Homo sapiens: one gene and its partner. The protein of the gene in region 1 interacts with the protein of each later gene in a biochemical or structural test. Each region holds a gene or a part of one and is shown in the gene's direction. Other genes may lie near its edges.

What was found. Proteins that work in one complex are often made in the same cells at the same time.
Region 2: the proteins of PAG1 (region 1) and ZAP70 form a complex in vitro, tested with the Homo sapiens proteins (one study listed by BioGRID).

Annotation. Positions count from the first base shown.
Region 1 is NC_000008.11:80,983,063-80,990,083, reverse strand, and holds part of PAG1 (phosphoprotein associated with glycosphingolipid-enriched microdomains 1), read left to right. Parts: intron 1-817; exon of another isoform or gene 818-1,014; intron 1,015-2,617; coding exon 2,618-2,714; intron 2,715-4,706; coding exon 4,707-5,308; intron 5,309-7,021. UniProt on the Homo sapiens protein: Negatively regulates TCR (T-cell antigen receptor)-mediated signaling in T-cells and FCER1 (high affinity immunoglobulin epsilon receptor)-mediated signaling in mast cells.
Region 2 is NC_000002.12:97,709,320-97,716,582, forward strand, and holds the start of ZAP70 (tyrosine-protein kinase ZAP-70), read left to right. Parts: upstream 1-4,256; 5' UTR 4,257-4,355; intron 4,356-4,562; exon of another isoform or gene 4,563-4,596; 5' UTR 4,597-4,675; intron 4,676-7,263. UniProt on the Homo sapiens protein: Tyrosine kinase that plays an essential role in regulation of the adaptive immune response. Regulates motility, adhesion and cytokine expression of mature T-cells, as well as thymocyte development.

The DNA of each region.
Region 1 (7,021 bases):
CTGCCTGGTGATTGCTGCTGTGGTGGCCTCAGCAGGGAGGGTGGGAGGGATGGAGGGAACGCCCCACTGTCGCTTCTCCCCATGCAGACTCCAGGCCCCTGCCTTTCGTCACTCCACCATTCTCCTGGTGCCAGTTGGGTGGTGAGGTGGGGCTGGGGAAGGGCTCCCACCGCCATTCCTCACTTCCTTCTAGAGCAGGGGTTCTTCTGCAGTGTGGCCTGGACCTCCACCCACAGCAGCAGCAGCACCTGGGAGCTCCTTAGAAATGCGAATTTTCCTGGGGGTGAGGCCCAGTAAAAGGCTCGCAAGCACCCCAGGTGATCCAGTTGTATGCTCGAGTGTGAGAGCCACTGGCCTAGAGCTTGGGTTCCCGCTGTTCTACTCAAGGTCAGCAGCAGCCCTGGGCGAGATAGGAAGAGAGTGGCAGGTGGATAAAAGGAAAAAGCTGGCTTCCATCCCCTGCCTTCTTCCTCATCCACCATATAATTCATTATTGCCCCAACCCATAGCCTCATTTATATGGATGTGAATGTCTGTGAGAGAGCGCGAGCACACACAGGAACGCATGCTTACCCGGACACTGGCACCCATGTACACACGCTCGCCCACCCAGCTCTCCTTAAGAGCTTTTCAGCTCCTAGATCTTATACAACTTGCGGATTCTTCATCTCATAGAAGCAAAGATTAGGAATAGTAGTTAGAGTCTAGATTATGGTAACTTCAGCTGTGATCGATTATGCTGTTATGGGCCCACCTGGGAGTCTTCCTTCCCCACACCCATGCCTGCCCATTTATAACATCATTTCTGGGATATTAGCACCTGCATTGCAAGTTCCTGGCAACCTAACACAGTGACCCATCTCACTGGGGGCTCATCAGACGTGAATGAGCTGCATTGGATGGAAACAGCTGACTTCCAATACACTTTTGGATCATTGCACAGCATGAACTATCTGCTGTGTATTACTGGCTTCCAATCAAGAGTCAGAGAATTTGTGAGGCCAACTAGCAAAGGTTTGTGTGCTGTTTACATCACAACTTTCCTTGTAGAATCCTGGAGCATGAGATAGCCTCTTGGAACGTGCAGGCTGTGAGAAGAACAGGGAGCAAATCACATTTGCAGTGATTTGGGCTGCAACCTGAGACAAGTTGGGTATTTAAAGAAATACATGAACACCAACTTGCTTTCTGACTACTCTTAGCTATAGCTGAGCCAGGCATATTGTTCTAGGTAGCATCTACACATTCTATCCCTGCAGAAAACCAACTATTGATGCCATTCTTCCCTCCAAATGTCCTAAGTTTATTTGTAAGAATAAGAAAGATTTGCAGAGCTGGGCACAGTGGCTCACGCCTGTAATCCCAGCACTTTGGGAGGCTGGGGTGGGCATATCGCTTGAGGCCAGGAGTTCGAGACCAGCCTGAGCAACATAGCAAGATCCCATCTCTTATGGGAGCAGCCAGACATAGTGGTGCATACCTGTAGTCCCACCGATTCCAGAGGCTGAGGCAGGAGGATCTCTTGGGCCCAGGAGTTTGAGACTTCAGTGAGCTATAATCATGCTACTGCACTCCAGCCTGGGCAACAAGGTGAGACCTCATCTTAAAAAATAAATAAATAAATAAATAAAAAGTTTGCAGAGCTAATTTTCAGCATATTATTGTTTCTGTGAACCTAGCAGCCAGAGGCTTTGCTGGTTCTAAAATAGTTTCAGAAATCAATAGCCTTATCTATCTCTGACCAGATTTAAGTCTGTTCCCTTCACATGACAAAGGGTGATGCCTTTCCACGTTTCTCATAGCATGGCACACCTTTACCAATAATGATTTACAGCACCTGTGTTGTAAGGATGAGGCTGCTGTGGTCTTTTTCAACCAGTTCCCTTCCTGCCTTGAGCTAAGGGAATTGATATCTCACAACCTGCCTATAGCCCTGTGTAGGTCACCAGGCAGGAAGCTCTGCACATGGCTTTGGAAGATTCCCAGTGCCCCTAAGATTCTGGGACAACAGTGTCTAATAGAACTTTCTGCAGTGCTGGAAGTGTTCTGTATCTCCTATTGGATATGGTATCCACTGGCCACATGTGGCTATTGAGCGCTTGAAATGTGACTAGTCAACAAGGAACTCAATTTAGTGTATTTTATTTTACTTAATTTAAATCTAAAAACAGTAGCTCCCCTTAATCTGTAGTTTTGATTTCTGCAGTTTCAGTTACCCACAGTCAACCACAATCCAAAAATAGGTGAGAACCATACAAGATATTTTGAGAGAAAGGAAGAGCACATTCACATAACTTTCATTATATTATATTGTTTTATTGTCAGTGGTTATTGTTAAATTACTGTACTTATAAATTAAACATCATCATAGGTATAACATATATGGATAGGAAAAGACATAGTCTATATAGGGTTCAGTACTACTCATGGTTTTAGGCATCCACTGGGGGTCTTGAAATGTACCCTCTGTAGATAAGGGGGGACTATTATAGGAGATTCTGTTTTCTGTTTCTGCTGTTTTAATTTTTTGAAAAAGCCATGGATCTTCTCCTCTGCTCTGCAGTCCAGATTCTTAGCAATGTGATGCATTTGTTTTTGTTTTTGTTTTTGTTTTCAGCCTTCAGACAAGGAGATGTTCAGCCGTTCAGTTACTAGCCTGGCAACAGATGCTCCTGCCAGCAGTGAGCAGAATGGGGCACTCACCAATGGGGACAGTAAGTTCTGCAAAAACACCAGCTTTCCACACAGGCCTCATCACCTCTGGAAGTCCTAGGTTTCAAAATACATAGCTCAAAAAGTAGGAAATGTGTTATTGCTCAGTTTTAGTATTCCTAGCAGTTTTAGCAGAACCCCTCATTTGGATGAATACTGCTACTTATTAATCCACTTCTGTGTGCCAGGCATTGTTCTAAGACTGGTACATGTACTAATTCATTTGCTCTTTTAGTACATTTTAGTACATTTACATGTACTAATTCATTTACCCCACGAGATTACTGTTATTAATAATAACACTACTCTGTAAGATAGGTATTATTACTCCTCACAATTTAAAGGTGACAAAACTGGGCACATTGCTGCTGTAACAATATTACCACAAACCTCATGCCTTAAAATAACAATTTATTGACTTGCAATTCTGAGGTCAGGAGTCTGAAATGGGTCTCACTGGGCTAAAATCAGGGCATCCGTAGGCCTGTGGTCCTTCCTGAAGCCTCAAGGAGAATCCATTGGCCTCTCCCTCATTCTTCACATCCCTCTCTGACCCTCCCCCCTCCCTATTCACTTATAGGGACCCTTGTGATTACACTGGGCCCACCTGGATAATCCAGGCTTCCCTCTCATCCGGGAGTCATCTAATTAACAGCCTTAATTCCACCTGTAGCCCTAATCCCTCCATACCCTCCACAAAACATTACACATTCACAAGTTCCAGGAATTAGGAGACAGACATTTTTCAGGGTCGTTCTGCCTTCCACAGAGATGTTGCTAATTTGCCTGATATCATATAGTCAGCGGGCTAAGGATCTGTAGTTGGAACCAGGCAGTCTGATCCCTGGGCACGCACTCAGTCACTCTGCATAACCTCTGCATCATGCATTGTGTACTCTTGCTGATGGAAGGAGCAGCTAGGTTTCCTTCATGCTTTAGAGTTTACACCATGCTTTTACCTGAGGTAAGAGGGCGTCCTGTTACCCCTGTTTACTGATGAGGAAACTGTGGGGTAATCAGGACACCAGTGCCTGTTCTCTGTCTACCATGATGTAGACAACTAGAACCAGAGAGCAAAAGTTCACCCCCTCCGTGATGATCAGGGATTTAGAACACACAGGGGTGTTGGTAAGTTCAGAAGGATTGGGGGATCCGTTGTCATTTTTTCACATACCCCTTGGAAACACTATTTCTAATTCCCCCAGAGTGAGACACTAATGGAATAACTTGCTTACTTTGTGTCTGCATCCTAAGGGCAGGGCTTTCTGTTTCATTGAATGATGTGTCTGCAGCACCCTGCACCATCCCTGGTGCATGGCAGGCACTCACAACACGGTTGACAAAGGGACGACTGAACAGCTTCACACAATAGCATATCTGTGGCTGGCCAAGAATTTCACATTTGGTTTTTTTCTAATTTGAGGTAGGAATGTTGGTGGCGGGATGAGATGGAAGCAAGGTATGAGGTGCCAGTCCCTTTGTGCTAATGGCTGACGGGTGCATGTTTGCCCTGTAGTTTCTATTATGTCTGCCAAACAAAAGTCACCTGTGTGAAAGGGGGTGGCTACCAATAATTCCCTCCACACAGGCAGGGGTCAGTGGTGCTGGGGACTGTGGTCACTGCACATGCTGCCTTTCTGGTGTCCAGCCTCCCATAGTTCAGCGGCATCAAACTGGTCATCTTCTGGTCACATTGGACAATCTGCCTACAAGAGTCTCTCATTGGAGTGACATTAAGGAAAGTAATTGTGAACTACACTTAGAGCCAAGATAACTTATTAAATCTTGTATTGGGAAAGATATAATGAACAGCTTTATTTTAAACTGTGATTGAAGTAGGATACCAACTGATGGTCATAACAACTATAATTTGTGCCTGAGACTTAAATAAAAAGCACGCATCTTGATTTAACCTAACTTTATATTACCTGATTCTCGGTAATAATTATTGAAAGACTTGCCTTTCTCCGCTTTTAATGTGTGTGCTGCTTTAGTTCTTTCAGAGGACAGTACTCTGACCTGCATGCAGCATTACGAGGAAGTCCAGACATCGGCCTCGGATCTGCTGGATTCCCAGGACAGCACAGGGAAACCAAAATGTCATCAGAGTCGGGAGCTGCCCAGAATCCCTCCCGAGAGCGCAGTGGATACCATGCTCACGGCGAGAAGTGTGGACGGGGACCAGGGGCTGGGGATGGAAGGGCCCTATGAAGTGCTCAAGGACAGCTCCTCCCAAGAAAACATGGTGGAGGACTGCTTGTATGAAACTGTGAAAGAGATCAAGGAGGTGGCTGCAGCTGCACACCTGGAGAAAGGCCACAGTGGCAAGGCAAAATCTACTTCTGCCTCGAAAGAGCTCCCAGGGCCCCAGACTGAAGGCAAAGCTGAGTTTGCTGAATATGCCTCGGTGGACAGAAACAAAAAATGTCGTCAAAGTGTTAATGTAGAGAGTATCCTTGGAAATTCATGTGATCCAGAAGAGGAGGCCCCACCACCTGTCCCTGTTAAGCTTCTGGACGAGAATGAAAACCTTCAGGAGAAGGAAGGGGGAGAGGCGGAAGAGAGTGCCACAGACACGACCAGTGAAACTAACAAGGTGGGCACTGGCGTTTTTGTTTTGTCTTTGTGGGTTCCTGTTCTGGTTAGGAATCTAGCTGGCCCTGGAGTTGTTCTGGGAAATATCTGCAAACACTTTCCAGTTTGTTGAATGATGAGAGCTGTTTTCATGTAAGCTGTGTTTGGCTTTTTCCCCCTCCAAGTAATAAAATACCAAAAACTTGTATTTATCAAATATTTCTCTCAGCACCTTACTTGGATATTTTCACATTTTTTCCATCATGTCTAATTAGGGCCAAATCTTGTTTGCTTCATTTTGATGTCCACAAATTAAATACAGAAACTGGACACTTTGCCCACACATTTTACCCATTCTGCTTGTTGGCTGCCTCAGCAGCATGGTGACCTTTCCCCTTCCAGGATCCCCAAAAATCAGCATGCATAGCAACAGGTACCATGGGAACCAACTCACAGGTGCCCCTGGTTATATCTGATTGTACAAACCTTCATATAAATCAGTAGGAGATCTTATTTTGTGACCCTTTCTAAACTATAGCCTATACTTCCTAAATTTAGATATTCAACAAAGCTGTAAAATGCATTAGCAATCCACACCTTCTGCATGTGTCTGATAACTTGATATCTGAGCCACGATGAAGTTCACATCCCTGGTTGTTAAAATCTCTTTGGGATTTAACTAGGCCCATCTACTTCAGGCAACTAATAATTAATTTCTGTTTTCTACACAGAAAAAGAGGAAGGTTCTCTCTTCTATTCAGTTTTAGTAGGAAGGACAAGTAGCAGGTTAGCCAGTCACTAGTAGCCTTAAAAACCTTCCGTAGTTCATGGCCAGAGGTGAACCCTCACTCTGTTTGTATAAATTAGACCAAGAAAATCATTCTTTGTGCTGTTCTCTGAATGCATTTCAACTTTTCATATTATCCATGAAATCAGCTGTTGAGAGCACCAATAAAAGGGTTTATGAACATGTTCATAAAATATAAAAATGCAGTCCAATTTTTTGCCCTTCATAGAACCAAAGACCATAAACCTGATGTAAAGTTCATGCTGCCTAAACCAGACAAAGCTTTTTACTTACAAGCATTAGAAAGATAAGACGTTGAGTTGTCTAACCATTGCTAGTAAACAGTTCTCCAGATTTCACGTTAAAAACTGGAAATAATCATCTGGAAATAAAATTATCCTTCCACAATATAGTAAAAATGAGTAATCCATCATCTTTATATAAACAACCCTAATTTTAAGTGAGTTGAGGGTTTGAAGTATTTAATATTCATTCATTTATTTAACAAAAGATCTTAATAAGCACCTGCTGTGTGCCACACAGTCTTCTAGTCCTGGAAACAAAACATGTACATGAACAAAATCCCTGCCCTGTGGAACTTACATCTTAGTGGGAAGAGACAGACATAAAGTTTAAAGTTTATAAGAGAAAAAAATAGAACCGAATAAGGGGAACTGAGAAAACAGGTGGGGAGTACAGTTTTGGATAGAGTGGTCAGGGTCTGCCCAGCTATGAAGGTGACGTTTGAGTTAAAGGATCCAAGGGGGTGAGGTTTGTGCTTTTGTGGAAAGAGCACGTGAAGCAGAGGGGATGCCCAGTGTGAGGCCCCTGAAGCTAGAGCTTGCAACTGGCTTTTTAAGGGAAGAGGAGGGGACTGCTGTGGGTGGAGAGGGAAGAGCAAGGACAGCAGTGAGGAGAAAGAGAACCAGAGCTCGATCCTGGATGGCC
Region 2 (7,263 bases), on another chromosome or scaffold:
CTGCAGGCTCCGTCTCCTGGGTTCACGCCATTCTCCTGCCTCAGCCTCCCGAGTAGCTGGGACTACAGGCGCCCGCCACCACGCCCGGCTAATTTTTTGTATTTTTAGTAGAGACGGAGTTTCACCGTTAGCCAGGATGGTCTCGATCTCCTGACCTTGTGATCTGCCTGCCTCAGCCTCCCAAAGTGCTGGGATTACAGGCGTGAGCCACCTTCAAGTCTTGATTCACAGGTTATCCCCTCCGAGGCATGCCCTGACTGGCTCAAAATTACATGCTCAAGACCTCGCCTACCCTTTCTGATTTATTTTACTCCTTAGCACCTGTAACCATGTGACATACTCTATGAAATATTTATCTATTTTGTTCATTCTCTGTCTCTCCCACTAGAATGTCAGCTCCATGAGGGAAGAGATTTTCATGTGCTGTTCACTGCGGATCCATAGAACAGAGTACCCGGAAAAGAGTCTGGCATAGAACGGGTGTTCAGTATTGAATAAATAAGTAGCCAGGGGTCTCAGGAGGTGGCAGTGCCATGGCAGTTTGAAGGCTTCCGAAGGAGCCATCCACTTGAGAAGCCCCCAGGGGAGAGCACAGCATGTGGCTGCTGTGGTCAAGCAATTCTTTTCTGACTTAAACCAGCTGGATTAATTTTTTTTATTTCAGGGCAGGGCGGTGGTCACTTTCAGCCTTCAGGGACGCCTGAGTTGTGCTTGGCAGCCTGCAATACTGGAGAGCTGCCCCTGGAGGGCGCAAGGGAATCCCGTTGCTGCACTCGGACGCGCAGTCACTAGACATGAGAGATGACGGTGGTGGTAGCAGTAATGGAGCATTTGCCTTTAGGCCTCTTTTAACTTTCACAACAGCCTACAAGACAGGTACCATTATCCCCGTTTCCTAAGGGAGGAAACCAAGGCGCAGAGAGGCTAAGTAACGTGCTCACGGTCCCTCAGGGTTAAGTGGCAGAACCAGAAAAGAACCAGAAGGAAAGGAGATACAAGTCACCATTTTTGGCCTGGCGCGGTGGCTCACGCCTGTAATCCCAGCACTTTGGGAGGCCGAGACGGGTGGATCACGAGGTCAGGAGATCGAGACCATCCTGGCTAACGGTGAAACTCCGTCTCTACTAAAAATACAAAAAATTAGCCGGGCGCGGTGGCGGGCGCCTGTGGTCCCAGCTGCTTGGGAGGCTGAGGGAGGAGAACGGCGTGAACCCGGGAGGCGGAGCTTGCAGTGAGCCGAGATAGCGCCACTGCAGTCCGGCCTGTGTGAAAGAGCGAGACTCCGTCTCAAAAAAAAAAAAAAAAAAAGTCACCATTTTTCTGTACACCCAGAGGGAATCCAGGAGGGGCCCTGGATGGACCTGTTTCCTTTGGGGCTCATTGCACTGGGGTGTATCTCCTCTCGGGCCTGCTGGAGCCTCCACCCTATCTCCCTGCTGCACGTCTCCCAGCAGTGGCTTGTGTTCTCTTAACTGTGCAGCCAGATTGGACCTGCTCAGCTCCAGGTGAAATGGACAGAAAGCCCATCCCTGCCCGGTCTGAGGATTGGGAAGCCTTCCTGGAGGAAAACACGCTTAATTGGAGACCTGAAAGAGGACTAGGAAATAGGCAGGTGAAGAGGTGTGGGCAAAGACCTGAGGATATGGGGGTGACTGATGAATTTCTTCGAGGCTCTTGGCATGAGTAGAGTGAATGTTTACCCCAACCCGATGAGGCAAAGGCACCGCAACTTTCCTAGCCCACATTTCCATCCGTTTGCCCTTTACTGTAAACATTCAAAAGATGCATCCACCTCCTTCCACTCTGGCAGAACAGAGGACCTTATCTGCATGCCAATCTCGGATTATCTGTAGCCCAATCTCAGAGCTGTCTGAGCACTGGGCTTTGTAGTTTCCAGACCAGCCTCTGGGACAGGAAGTGGGGGGCTCAAGGGTTGTAGGGCCAGTGCCTTGCAGAGGCTGGGAATCCCCTTCTCAGGACCTGAAGACCCTGGAAACTGGAAGCCCCCCACCCACACAGAGGCACCCTGTCCCATAGCTGGCTCAGCTTCCAGCTCCCTGGGGCGCTGGCCTCCTTCGGGGAGATATTTTACAACCAAAGTTTTCTTCTTTTATGTCCAGCAGCACGTGGGTGGGGTCAGGCTGCCTGGGCTGCAATCCCACCTGGCCACTTGGCATCTCTTAACCTCTCTGGGCTTTACTTACCTTATCTGGAAAATAGGTTGAATGGCTTATTAATTGTGATGTGCGTACAGCAATGTCTGGCACATAATCAGTGCGACTCTCATTATTGTAGTATGAATGTGATTTGATGCTGTAATTTCTCCTCTCTTCAGGGTGCCGGTGTCTTTTTCTCTCAATACTCCAAGAAATGAGCGTCCAGCATGGATGTGAAGGGATGCTTGCTGCACCTGGAGTTTCAAGATGCCGCTGGGGAAAAGGGAGGCTGCTAGCAAACACCATTTTGGAGGGGGCTGTATGAAGGAGAAAAGTAGCCTAGAGCCGGAACTCAGATTTTCTAAAGGGGATTCAGGCGGCCAGAGGATAGTAGAGGGCCAGAAAGGAGGTCCCCAAGGAGGCTTCGGGGTAGGGTGTGAGGGGATCCTCAGGCAGACTGGGGAGCTGAGCCTGTTGTAACCGAGCGAGTTACAGAGAAACGCCGCACTTTGAGACGAATTCAGGGGTCCTTTATTAGCTGGCGACTGAGAGACAGCTAGTGCTCAAAATTCTCTCAGCCCCAAAGAAGGGGCTTGATTTTCTTTTATACTTTGGTTTAGAAAGGACAGGTGGGGGTCTAAAACAATCTTACAGAAGTAAAGCAGGCAAAAAGTTAAAAGGATAAATGGTTACGGGAAAGCAAACAGTTCCAGGTGCAGGGGCTTAAAATCTATCACAAGGTGATAGACACGGGGCTTTGGGCGTTATCAACCGGACACAAACGCCGGGGCTCTGGGTGCTATTAACCGGGCGAATTCCTGGGAACTGCGGATATAGCTTGCCACAGTATCTTATCAGTTAATTGCATTCTTGGATGTGCTGGGAGTCAGCTTGCACAAATTAAGTCCTTGAGGAAGCGGGGTGGGTAAGGGGCTGCAAATGAAAGAGCCAAGATGGAGTCTGTCTGGCTCTCTTAGCTAAGGGAGAGTCAATTCAGGTTAAAACAAGGTAGGGTATCACAAGCCCACTTAACAAGGGCAGCAGGACCCCAAGAAGAAAAGCTTTAGGAGTCTCCACAGTGGGCCCAGGGCAGTTCCACACAGGTCTCTGAGGCCCCACAGACAGGAGAGCTGTGACGACTCCCTTAGTGCCCAAGAAAGCAAGGAGGTGGTGGGCAAGGGGCTCCCAGAGGCCTTGGGGCACTAGAGGGGAGATGGAGCCGAGGGAGTGGCTCTGCAGGCCCCTCTCTGAGAGAGTGCATGAGGTGTGGCCCCAGGCCCAAGGGTAGGGGGTGCACAGGGTGAGGGAAGGGAGGAGAGGAAGAGGAGGAGGAGGTGGTGGCCACAGCGGGATGGCACTCAGCCAGGTTCAGCTTCGTGGGAAAGGTCCCAGGTGGGCCGGGCTAGCACTGGGGATGCCCTGGCTCTGTGTCTCGGTTGGGTGGCTGACTCCTCCTGGAACGCATCCCTGACATCCTCCAGGCTGGCTTGGGGATACTCTGGGGACACACAGTGCCCAGGCTTCCGGCCTCCCAGCCCTGGCTCCCTGTGGACTCAGCTGCCCCCAACAAGCCTGCGAGCCACTGGAGAGCAAGGGCAGGCTGTCCTTGCCATCCAGATGCCTGGCACAGAAGGGGTTCTCACCTTCGGGGTATGGGCTGACTCAGTGGGTTTCTCCTCCCTCCAGCTCTAACCTGCCTGTGGAATAAACAAATCACTCCTCTGGGTTGTCTAGCTGGTGCAGGCCCCAGGGCGACGCCCCTTTGAGGGGAAAATGGGGGCATTCCAGTTTCCATGAGCCCTGGGACTCCCCTCCTTCCCACCACTGCTGCCTACCCTCCGGTTCCAGGTATGCAGGCTTCCTCCCTTCTGACGGTTCCTGCTGCTGGAGTCGTCCTTCCTGAAACCCTGCCTTTGCTTAGCCTCATTCCCATCTCTCAGTCCCATCCTGCAGCTGGGCAGGCAGTGCTGGGCCCCGGAAATGCCCTCTGCCTCCCTGGAGCACGTGGCCTGTGATTTTCCTTGAGCACAGCACTTTGTGACTTTGATGTAAACATCAAACACAGCCCCCTTTCCTGTCTTCGCATCCAGGAAATAGGTTAGTTTCAGACAAGCCTGCTTGCCGGAGCTCAGCAGACACCAGGCCTTCCGGGCAGGCCTGGCCCACCGTGGGCCTCAGAGCTGCTGCTGGGGCATTCAGGTAAGCGGCTGTCCTCGGGCCTTCTGCCTGTGTCCTGCCACCAGGGCCACCCCAGGGGGCTCTGGGAGACCTGGCAGAGGATGAACCCCCCCCATCCATGAGTGAGAAACCCTGGCGGGGTGTGACATCCTCCCCCGGGGTGTGTGCGGAGAGTGTGAGCGGCAGGGCCTCCCTCTCAGGCTGGGGGCTTGGGCTGCAGGGAAATCCAAACCGGCTTTGTAAGCCCCGATTCCTCACCCAGAACCGGCTCTCCATTGGCATTGGGACCAGAGACCCCGCAAGTGGCCTGTTTGCCTGGACATCCACCTGTACGTCCCCAGGTAAGTGGTGCCTGGGTGGAGTGGCACCTGGCCACCGTCTCCATGGTGGGCTGTGTCTGGAGGAGGAAGACAGAATATTAACTGGGAGTCAGGAGGTTGCTGGGAGGACCAGGAGAGCTGGAGGACTGGGCTGGGTGGTGACTGGCTGGAGATGGAGGCAGACGGGGCTTGTGGCCACGCTGAGGGAAGCAGCTCCCCCTCCAGAGGCTTGGCCGAGCGGGGCTGTTCAGGGGACACGGTGAGGCCTGCTCAGTCCCTGGGCTCCTGCTGGGCCCTGTTTGGCTGCATCCTTGGCTCTCGGAGGCAGAGAAACCTCCAGAGAAAGCGCATGTGCACTCTGTGAAGATGAGGGGGCTGCTCACCAGGGCCGTGAGCTCCATCAGCAGAATGCTGTGATTCCTGTGAGGAGTCCAGGGCAGGCTTGAGCCACTTGTAGGCGAGCTCAGGTTAGAGGAAGACCTGGAGAGAGAAAGAGCAAAACACCGAGTTCTCCTCAACTGCTGTGTGTTCTCGGCAAGTTGCTTGGCCTCTCTGACCTCAGTTTGTGCATCTGTTAAATGCACATGCAGATATGGGCACCTGGCAGGCGCCTGGTTCCTGACTGTTGGCGAGAGGCTGGGAAATGTGTCCCAGGTAGGAAGCATCCCCGACAGGAAGGAACAGGAGTTCATGAGGTGAGCAGCTCGAGATGATTCATTACTCTCGTCTTGGTTGGAACAGTAGGCAGACAGGAGGTGTTTAATAATGCCTTGCTGAGAGATCAGGGTCAGGGACTCCTAAGGTGCCACCTGTGAAGCTGCCTCCTGCTGAATCCAGAGCTTCCTTTTCCTCTTCACACCTGCCCTCCATCCTCAGCCCCACTGCCCTGGCAGTGTTGCGGGGGTGGTGTTGATGTGCACACTCTGGAGCCTGGGGGCCTGGCTTCACATTCTGGCTCTGCCACTCACCAGCTGTGTGACTGGACCAGTCACCGCATCTCTCTGTGCTTCCCTCCCAGGGCTCTCGGGAGGATAAAGAGAGTGACTGTATCCACACTGCCCGGCACATACAGGTGCTGCAGAAAGGTCTCACTAAAACCCTCATTATCCTCACTAGCTCTGGGTGGCCTCGGGCTCTGGACTCCACAGTTCCTGTATGCTCTCCGGGGCTGCAGCACCCAGACCACCCCGTGCTGACCACTCCCTGCCCCACCCCAAGGTACAGGGTTAAGGCAGCCATTCTCATCAGAGCCAATTTTACCTCCTCCCGTCTCCCTGGGACAGTTGATAGTGCCTGGAGACAGTTTGGGTTGTGACCCAGCGGGTGTTACTGGCATCCAGCATGTCCAGGACAGGAATCCTGTGAACAGCCTACAAGGCCCAGGACAGTCCCACCCTGTTCCATTGTCTCTATCAGCCCCTATCCTCCTGACTCACACCGCCTTTTCCCATCTCCCTTTTACAGTCACAGAGCCTGAGGCCCAGAGAGGGACCGCTGCTTGCTGAGGTCACACAGGCAGTGGAGGCCGGAGTTGGGGGCCTCACTGGAGGGGCGGTGGAAGGGCATTGTTCAATCAACAGACACTTGGAGAGTGTGCTGGGTTGGGGAATCTGACCCTGACCCCGCACCAGCCCAGCTCTCCAGGGTCTCCTAATAGACATTTGCTGGAGTGGTTAGTGCTGGCTGCTGCATTGGACAGACCTGAGTTCAAATCCTGGTGGCCCCTTGCAGGCTGCATGTTCTGAGAGTGACATTGACCTCTCCGAGCCTCAGTTTCTTTAGCTGAGGAGTGGGATAACAGTTCCCACCAAATGTAGTTGTGGTGAGAATTAGAATAAATGGCTAATGCTCGCAAAGGGTAGTGCAGTCCCCAGCACAGAGGCTGTTGTGATTGTCCTTACACACTTGACAAATATTTGTGGGGAGGAAGCAGGAGCTTCCATAGAAAACAAGACAGAGCCGTGGGCCCTGCCTCGGGGAGCTCAGCCTGGTGAGGGACTGAGGAGCAGAGACAGAGGCCATCAGGGCTGTGATGTGGGAGGATGGGGACCCTGGAAGCCTAGGGGAGGTGCCTGACCCAGGCTGGGGAGGGGGCAGGGCTCATGGAATGCTTCTGGGAGGATGGGACAACGGAGGAGGCCTGAAGCCGGAGGCCCAGTAGAAGGATGCAGCGCAGTTCTGGGCTGAGGGAATAGCCTGTGGCCAGGATCCTCAGGATGGGCCCCTCCTCTCCCGCCATCCTCCACCCAAGGAAGCCCCTGTGGCCCCTCACCCCTTCCCAGGTGTCAGGTTCCACCGGTGCTCAGAGGCATCCCCACCCATCCCAGTGGACTGCAGACCTTTGTAGGTACCTGGTATATTGAGCACCTCCTCTGTGCCATGCTGGTATAGGTAGGAGAACAAGACAAAGGCTCCACTCCCGTGGTGCTTACATTCTGGCAGGGACAAAGGTACTATGTCACCAATAGATACAATATCATCTTTTAGGTGGTGAAGAACAACAAAGCTGGGTCAGGGCTAGAGAGAGAAGGAGAGGCTATTTTGGAGAGGGAGGTCAGGGAAGGCCTCCTGGAGGAGGTGACTTAGGCAGAGACCTGAATAAAGTGGAA